Regions from separate parts of the Homo sapiens genome. Here region 2 is reported to be linked to region 1. The links are microRNA targets in miRTarBase. Many come from high-throughput screens and were not tested one by one. Region 1 holds a microRNA gene; the other region holds the end of a gene's coding sequence.

Region 1 (3,531 bases):
TATCCTACTTTTTCTCTGAAAATGTATTTTGAATGCTGCTCATGGCAAGAGTAGTTCATGCAGTGGATGAGTTTCATACGATGCATTTCTGCAGTCCCCTACAGCTGGGCGTTTAGGTGATTGACAGCTTTTTAAATATTATGTCAGCACTGAAGACATTCATCTTCCCACTCTGCAGGTTAGAAGACTGAGGCTTAGTGATGTCGGAGGGCCCCACAGCTAGTGAGTGAGGAAGCCAAAATGTGAACTTGATGGCTTTTTTTGACTTACCCCATGTTTGTGTGTGACAGCCATGGCTGTGGCGGGGGTGAGAGTGGGTACAGAGATGCCAGCTTGGGTTTGCCATTGTTAGAAGTGAAGATGACACCTCAGTGCTGCAGATTTTGCAGGAGGGGACTGGAGCCAAGCCACAAACTTTTCTCTGTTAGGAGATGGGTTCTTGGAGTGGGTGTGGTGTCTGACCATCCGGGGAGATGGCTGAAGCTGGGGATCTGGGAAGGCTCCCAGAAGGGAGGTGGCCTGGGGAACCAGGGGTTCAGTCCTTCCAGGATGGACTGGCTTGATGGTGGCTTTTCAAGCTCGTTCTGTTCCCAGCCACTGGGCATCCTGTCCATCCTGGAGGAGGAATGCATGTTCCCCAAGGCCTCAGACGCCAGCTTCCGGGCCAAGCTCTACGACAACCACGCGGGGAAGTCACCCAATTTCCAGCAGCCTCGGCCTGACAAGAAGCGCAAGTACCAGGCCCACTTCGAGGTGGTCCACTACGCAGGCGTGGTAGGTGCTTGCTGGAACCCCAGCCCTCGGCCAGGCTCCTCCCGCCCTGCTCCAGGTCTCCCACCCGGGCTCAGCACCTGACTTGTCTCTCCAGGTGCCTTACAGCATTGTGGGCTGGCTGGAGAAAAACAAGGATCCCCTGAATGAGACCGTGGTCCCCATCTTCCAGAAGTCACAGAATAGGCTCCTGGCGACTCTCTATGAGAATTATGCGGGCTCCTGCTCCAGTGAGTATGGAGGGACAAGATCTCCACTCTGACAGGGGCCCACAGAGCGACATTCCCTGGAGTGACCAGGCCCCTTGTCTCTATTAGCTGAGCCCCCCAAGTCTGGGGTGAAAGAGAAGCGTAAGAAGGCAGCATCGTTCCAGACGGTGTCCCAGCTGCACAAGGTAAGGCCCCATCTGGGAGACAGACCCTCCCTCTTGGCAGCCTCCAGCCCCGTCCTTCACCCCCTGCCCTGTCCCCTGTGCCTTGGGCGGGCGGCTGTTAAGACTTGCAGTGATGTTTAACTCCTCTCCACGTGAACATCACAGCAAGTCTGTGCTGCTTCCCGTCCCTACGCTGCCTGGGCAGGGTTTGTGGGGAAGGGGTGGGAGCCCTGGGGCTCTGGGAGGGACGGGGATTTGGCAGGGAAGTGAAGACTTTGGTGGTGGTGATGGGAGACAGCGAAGGGTCTCCCATCACCAGAATGAGAGTGAAAGAGCAAAAGTGCAGGGCACTTAGGGCCCTGCTCCCGTCTCGGTCCTGACCACTGCGGCATCCAATTCTGGTTCTCTGCCCCCTTTGTGCCTTTCCCTCACTCTTCCCCACTGCCAGGAGAACCTCAACAAGCTGATGACCAACCTGCGGGCCACACAGCCCCACTTCGTCCGCTGCATTGTCCCCAACGAGAACAAAACCCCAGGTAGTCACCCAGGGCTGGCCTGGCTGGGGCCGGGAGGCATCATGGGAAGGTGACAGGGCAGAGGCCGGGAGGCTGAGTACATCTTCCCCCTCACCTCGCAGGGTCTCCACTGCTGCTTTTTCTCTGGGGCCTGCGGGTGTGCCTGTTGACCTCTGACCTTTTCCCCTCTCACGTCCAGGGGTCATGGATGCCTTCTTGGTGCTACACCAGCTGCGCTGCAATGGGGTCCTGGAGGGGATCCGGATCTGCCGCCAAGGGTTCCCCAACAGGTTGCTCTACACCGACTTCCGGCAGCGGTGGGTGACCCCTTCCCCCTGCCTGCTGCTCCAGGTGGAGGCCTGAGGGGCTGGGCAGGACACACATATCAGAGCCCAACAGACGGTCCCCTGTCTGGAGGGGGAAGCAGGGACTGTGAGGGGCCTGGCCAGGTATCCCAGCAAGACATGGGGGTGGCTCAGACCTGGCCGGGGACTTGGGGAGAAGTGAATAGGCTTGGGGCAAATAGTGGAGGTGGAGCCTACAGGCCTCGCTGATAAGCTGGACATGGAATTCTGGATGCAGAAAAGACGAATGATTTCTAGTTTTGGGAGTGAGCAACCTGGGAGCTACCAGTGGTAGATTTACTGAGCTACAAAAACAGGGTTTTTTGATTTGGAGGAGAGGTGAAGGGATACTGGTTTGAGCTCTGTTTTGCGTGTATCAGGTTTGAAATGCCTCCAGCAGACATCCTAGAAAAGTCATGGGGGAGATTGGGATTATCAATCTGGAGCTCAGGGCAGCGGGCAGAAAGGATGCAGATTTGGGAGTTGAACGAGAATCATGTGGACGAGGCTTCATGAGACACCTGGCACATAGCAAGCACCTGGGCAGTGCTGCCAGCTCCTCCCCGTTCCCTCAATGGGCAACAAGCATCCATCGTTCCTTCTCCCTCCAGAAGTCATGGTGTCATCCACACTATCCTTTGTAAACAGAGGTTCACACAGATACCATACACGCACACACACGCATGGTGCTGTGACCTTGTTTTTTCTAACAGTCTGGCCTGGAGATCGTTCCTTATCCCCAGGCGTATGCCTGCCATCGTCATCCGTTTTTCTTGGCTGTGAAACATCTCACAGTCTGGTGGACTGCATGCTTTGTTTAATGAGTCCCCCTCATGAGGGGCCTTCACAGCGTGGCTGTAGCCCACCTGACCCACACAGCCCTGTGCATGTGTCCACTTAGAAGTGGGCAGGCTGGGAGCCCTGGCTCTTTTGCATTAGAATTTCCCCCCAAATGGGCTGGGCGCGGTGGCTAACGCCTGTAATCCCAGCACTTTGGGAGGCCGAGGCAGGCGGATCACGAGGTCAGGAGATCGAGACCATCCTGGCTAACACGGTGAAACCCCATCTCTACTAAAAATATAAAAAAATTAGCCGGGCGTGGTGGCGGGAGCCTGTAGTCCCAGCTACTCGGGAGGCTGAGGCAGGAGAATGGCCTGAACCCGGGAGGCAGAGCTTGCAGTGAGCAGAGATCGTGCCACTGCACTCCAGCCTGGGCGACAGAGCGAGACTCCGTCTCAAAAAAAAAAAAAAAAAAGAATTTTCCCCCAAATGTTTCTTCAGTGATAGGGTACAGCATGTCACCTTCTACTAATATTTTTTGCCTTTAAAAAAATTTTAAAAATAGTGCATGCCTTCTGTAAAAAGCCTCTTTAAAAACTTAATGAATGCATTTAAAATCCCCCCAAGGTTGTGTTTTTTTTTTTTTTTTTGAGACGGAGTCTTGCTCTGTCACCCAGGCTGGAGTGCAGTGGCAGGATCTTGGCTCACTGCAACCTCTGCCTTCTGAGGTTCAAGCGATTCTGCAATT
Region 2 (3,000 bases), not on the chromosome of region 1:
CTTCCCAGAAGTGAGAAATTGCATCCTGGGGTACACAGCCAATTCTTCACTGGGTATGTTCTCCTGATGTCACAGAGGCACCTCAAATTCAGTAAGTCCCAAGTTAAACTGATCATCCTCCCCCATACTATCTATGCCTATTTTCTTTATTTTTATTTGCTGTCAATATTCATTCACATTCAAGTCAGAGCCTGAGAGTCCACCTAATTTTTTTGGTTTTCCTCATCTTTCACATGAAATACTGTTTGTTCCTTTTATTTCCCCTCATTGTTTTGAATAACTTTCTCCCTCTCCACACTTACCCCACTATCCTAGTTCAGATTTTCGTGGTCTCCTTCTTGGATTTTCTTCAGTGACATCTCATACGTTGGGTATAACTTAAACTGGGTGCAACAGACCAGGGAAACCTACTAGGTCCAGCTAAGTATATAAGGAAAGTAGCTGTGTGTAATCCATTTCCAGGTACATGAGCCTGAATGGTGGGTACTCTCTTCCTTTAGCGTGGCAGCATTTTTACTGCTTGCCTTCATTTTCTTGTTCTTTGTTTCAGAACCCACTTGGTACTCTGACAACAAATTGAATTAACTCAGCCACAGTGGCTTAGAAAGAAAGGATCAAGATCAAGTAGATGTAAGATTGGCAAAGAGCACAGTTTGGTGACACACTGTTGGCATGGGTGTGGTAAAGCAGGTGTGCATCCATTACTTGTAGGAGGTTAAGGTGGTGAGAACTCCTTGGAAGATGATTTAGCAATGGCTATTAATATAAAATGAACTTACTCATTGAACCAGTAATTTCATTTCTCGGAATTATCCTGCAGATATATTTATGCTTGTACACAAAGATGTATACACTTAAGTAATCACTGCAGAATAGTTTACAGTAACAGAAAACCAGAACCAACATAAATGATCATCAAAGGTGTAATGAATAAGTCAAGTGTATTCCAATCACACAATAGAACAGCATGCAATAAAATTAAGTAGATAAGTATAAGAAAAAATCACTAAGATTTTGTGATTAAAAAGGCACAGATACATACAGTATGTTATTATTTGTATAAAAATTCCATACACACATACATGTGTTCTTGTATATATATAGACTAAATCTAAATATGTATATGCAAAAAATATACTAGTGCTAATCTATGGGCTGGAAACTAGAGACCCCGGGGTTTGAGATTTACTTTTAACTGTATACTTTTTATACTGTATGGTTTTTTGATCATGTGCTTGTATTAAAATTATTTTAAATTGGCATAAAACAAAACACAAATAAAGACCAAGTGGTAAGTCTTAATATGTGTAGTTCAATATATAAGAAATAGCTGCACATATAAAATGATATATATCTATGCTTTCTTCTCACATGGGAAGTAACATATACAAACAGATATACAAATATATTATATATGTAAGTAGTTATAAGTACATGTATATTTGTATAAATGAAAAATGGTTTGTTCAGTCAACTTTAAAAAACACTTAGCCATCCTAACTTACACCAAGTATATTTTCATAACGTATTCAAGATGTTGTTTAATCTTTTAACTTATAAGTTTCATTTTCAAAAAGAGATGTACAAAGTAATGTCTGCATAGCTAATGCTTCAGATTCAGCTTCTGTCCTGGAAAGTTTTGACTTTGATAAATACGTTCTCAGAAAGACAAATGAAAAAAGAAAGCATATATTTAAGTATTAAGAACTTAAGTCTGCCACTTAATTGCTAAGATGATGAACACATTTTATTTATTTTTCTGCAACACATCACATACTGGATCCAGAATTATCCATGTATACAGTAATAAAAAATCAACACCTACTCTGAGCACAACTGCCACAACTGGCTTTTCACTGTAAATAGCTACCTGAATTTAAAGAGATGTGTACCCCATATACCCCCAAAAATACCTCCCTGATTGCACTACCACATATATAGACCAGAATTGAGTAGTTCTGAAAATCTGTAGCATAGAAAAGCAGGCCATAATACAGCGGCTTTAAATAAGAACACGGAGGGCCTGAGGATAGTAAAGTTTTACTGAATAACCAAAAATGTTGATTAATAGTATGAACAACATTGTAAGATTTCTAACTAACAGAACATATTTTTAAAGCATTTTACACATCAACACTATACAAACAACAGACATTGAGTTTCCAACATCCAAATGAATCACGCCCTAGAATGGTGTGTGCCACACTCTAGAATGGTGGCAATCTAGAACCTGAACTGCATTTTGTAATTAGAGTAAGGCTATAAATGATGGGTAGTTCCTCAAAACAACCCCAAAGATGCTTTGTAGCTCACATTTCCCCAAAACACCACACATCTAACATGTGTAAAAGATCTGAACACTATTGCAATATTGATAAAACTAACGTACTGAATAGTAGTGAAGACTATGACTACATCAACCTAAAGAAGGAGGGTATGTGAATCACTGAAAGACAGAACACAATTAAGGTTTAGCCAAAACTCTTTGAATGAGAAGGCAAAAATATACTGCTGTTGGGAAACGTGAATGAGAGTTTTAAAGCCAAAGTTTTGACTGCCGAAAGGACCACTTGTGCTCTCTCGCTCCCGCTCTCTCTCTTTCTTTCTCTGCCTAATACATTAAGCACACGTAAGTTGGACTGGTTCCACCTGGAAGACAAAAGCCACACAAAGTTAAAAGCACAAATGCAGCATGAAGAAGGAAAGTCAGGCGGAACTGAAAGGTAAACCTGTGCACTTTGAGAACAAGGCGTCCATCCTTAACTCCAGAGGCCTGCGTAGTTCCCATGGAGGCCTGAAGGGAGAGGCCCCCCAGCCACAAAGAGCTTCATCTCCGGCCAGTTGTAGCAGTGGGTGTAGAGCGCATTGGGGAACTCTCCCATGCCACCAAAGTAGTTCACCCAGACGTCATCTTGGTTGAGCCAGCCTCTGCCGCAGGCAAGCTTGAGCTTCCTCCCTGCGGGCCCCGGCATGGAGTCCAGGCTGGAAGAGGCCCTCTCC

The links. Region 1 holds the annotated microRNA hsa-miR-499b-3p (AACAUCACUGCAAGUCUUAACA, at 1,261-1,282, opposite strand). A microRNA usually pairs through its seed, bases 2 to 8, with sites in the 3' UTR of a target mRNA and lowers its output. Matches are read on the target gene's strand: a 7mer-m8 pairs with bases 2 to 8, a 7mer-A1 pairs with bases 2 to 7 and ends in A, and an 8mer does both.
Region 2: the mRNA of DCAF12L2 is a reported target of hsa-miR-499b-3p. Seed matches in the 3' UTR shown: 7mer-A1 at 2,413-2,419 and 7mer-m8 at 1,767-1,773.

The regions. Positions count from the first base shown.
Region 1 is chr20:34,989,146-34,992,676 of GRCh38, forward strand. It overlaps MIR499B (microRNA 499b), which reads right to left and starts at 1,327; the gene lies at 1,255-1,327. MYH7B (myosin heavy chain 7B) reads left to right here. Exons shown (of 45, transcript NM_020884.7): 20 at 595-774; 21 at 869-1,001; 22 at 1,089-1,165; 23 at 1,593-1,680; 24 at 1,859-1,976. MIR499A (microRNA 499a) reads left to right here and starts at 1,231; the gene lies at 1,231-1,352.
Region 2 is chrX:126,161,774-126,164,773 of GRCh38, forward strand. DCAF12L2 (DDB1 and CUL4 associated factor 12 like 2) reads right to left here. Exons shown (of 1, transcript NM_001013628.3): 1 at 1,726-3,000. The coding sequence ends at 2,760. Among named protein-coding and RNA genes, the nearest start is that of DCAF12L2, 3.0 kb to the right of the region's middle.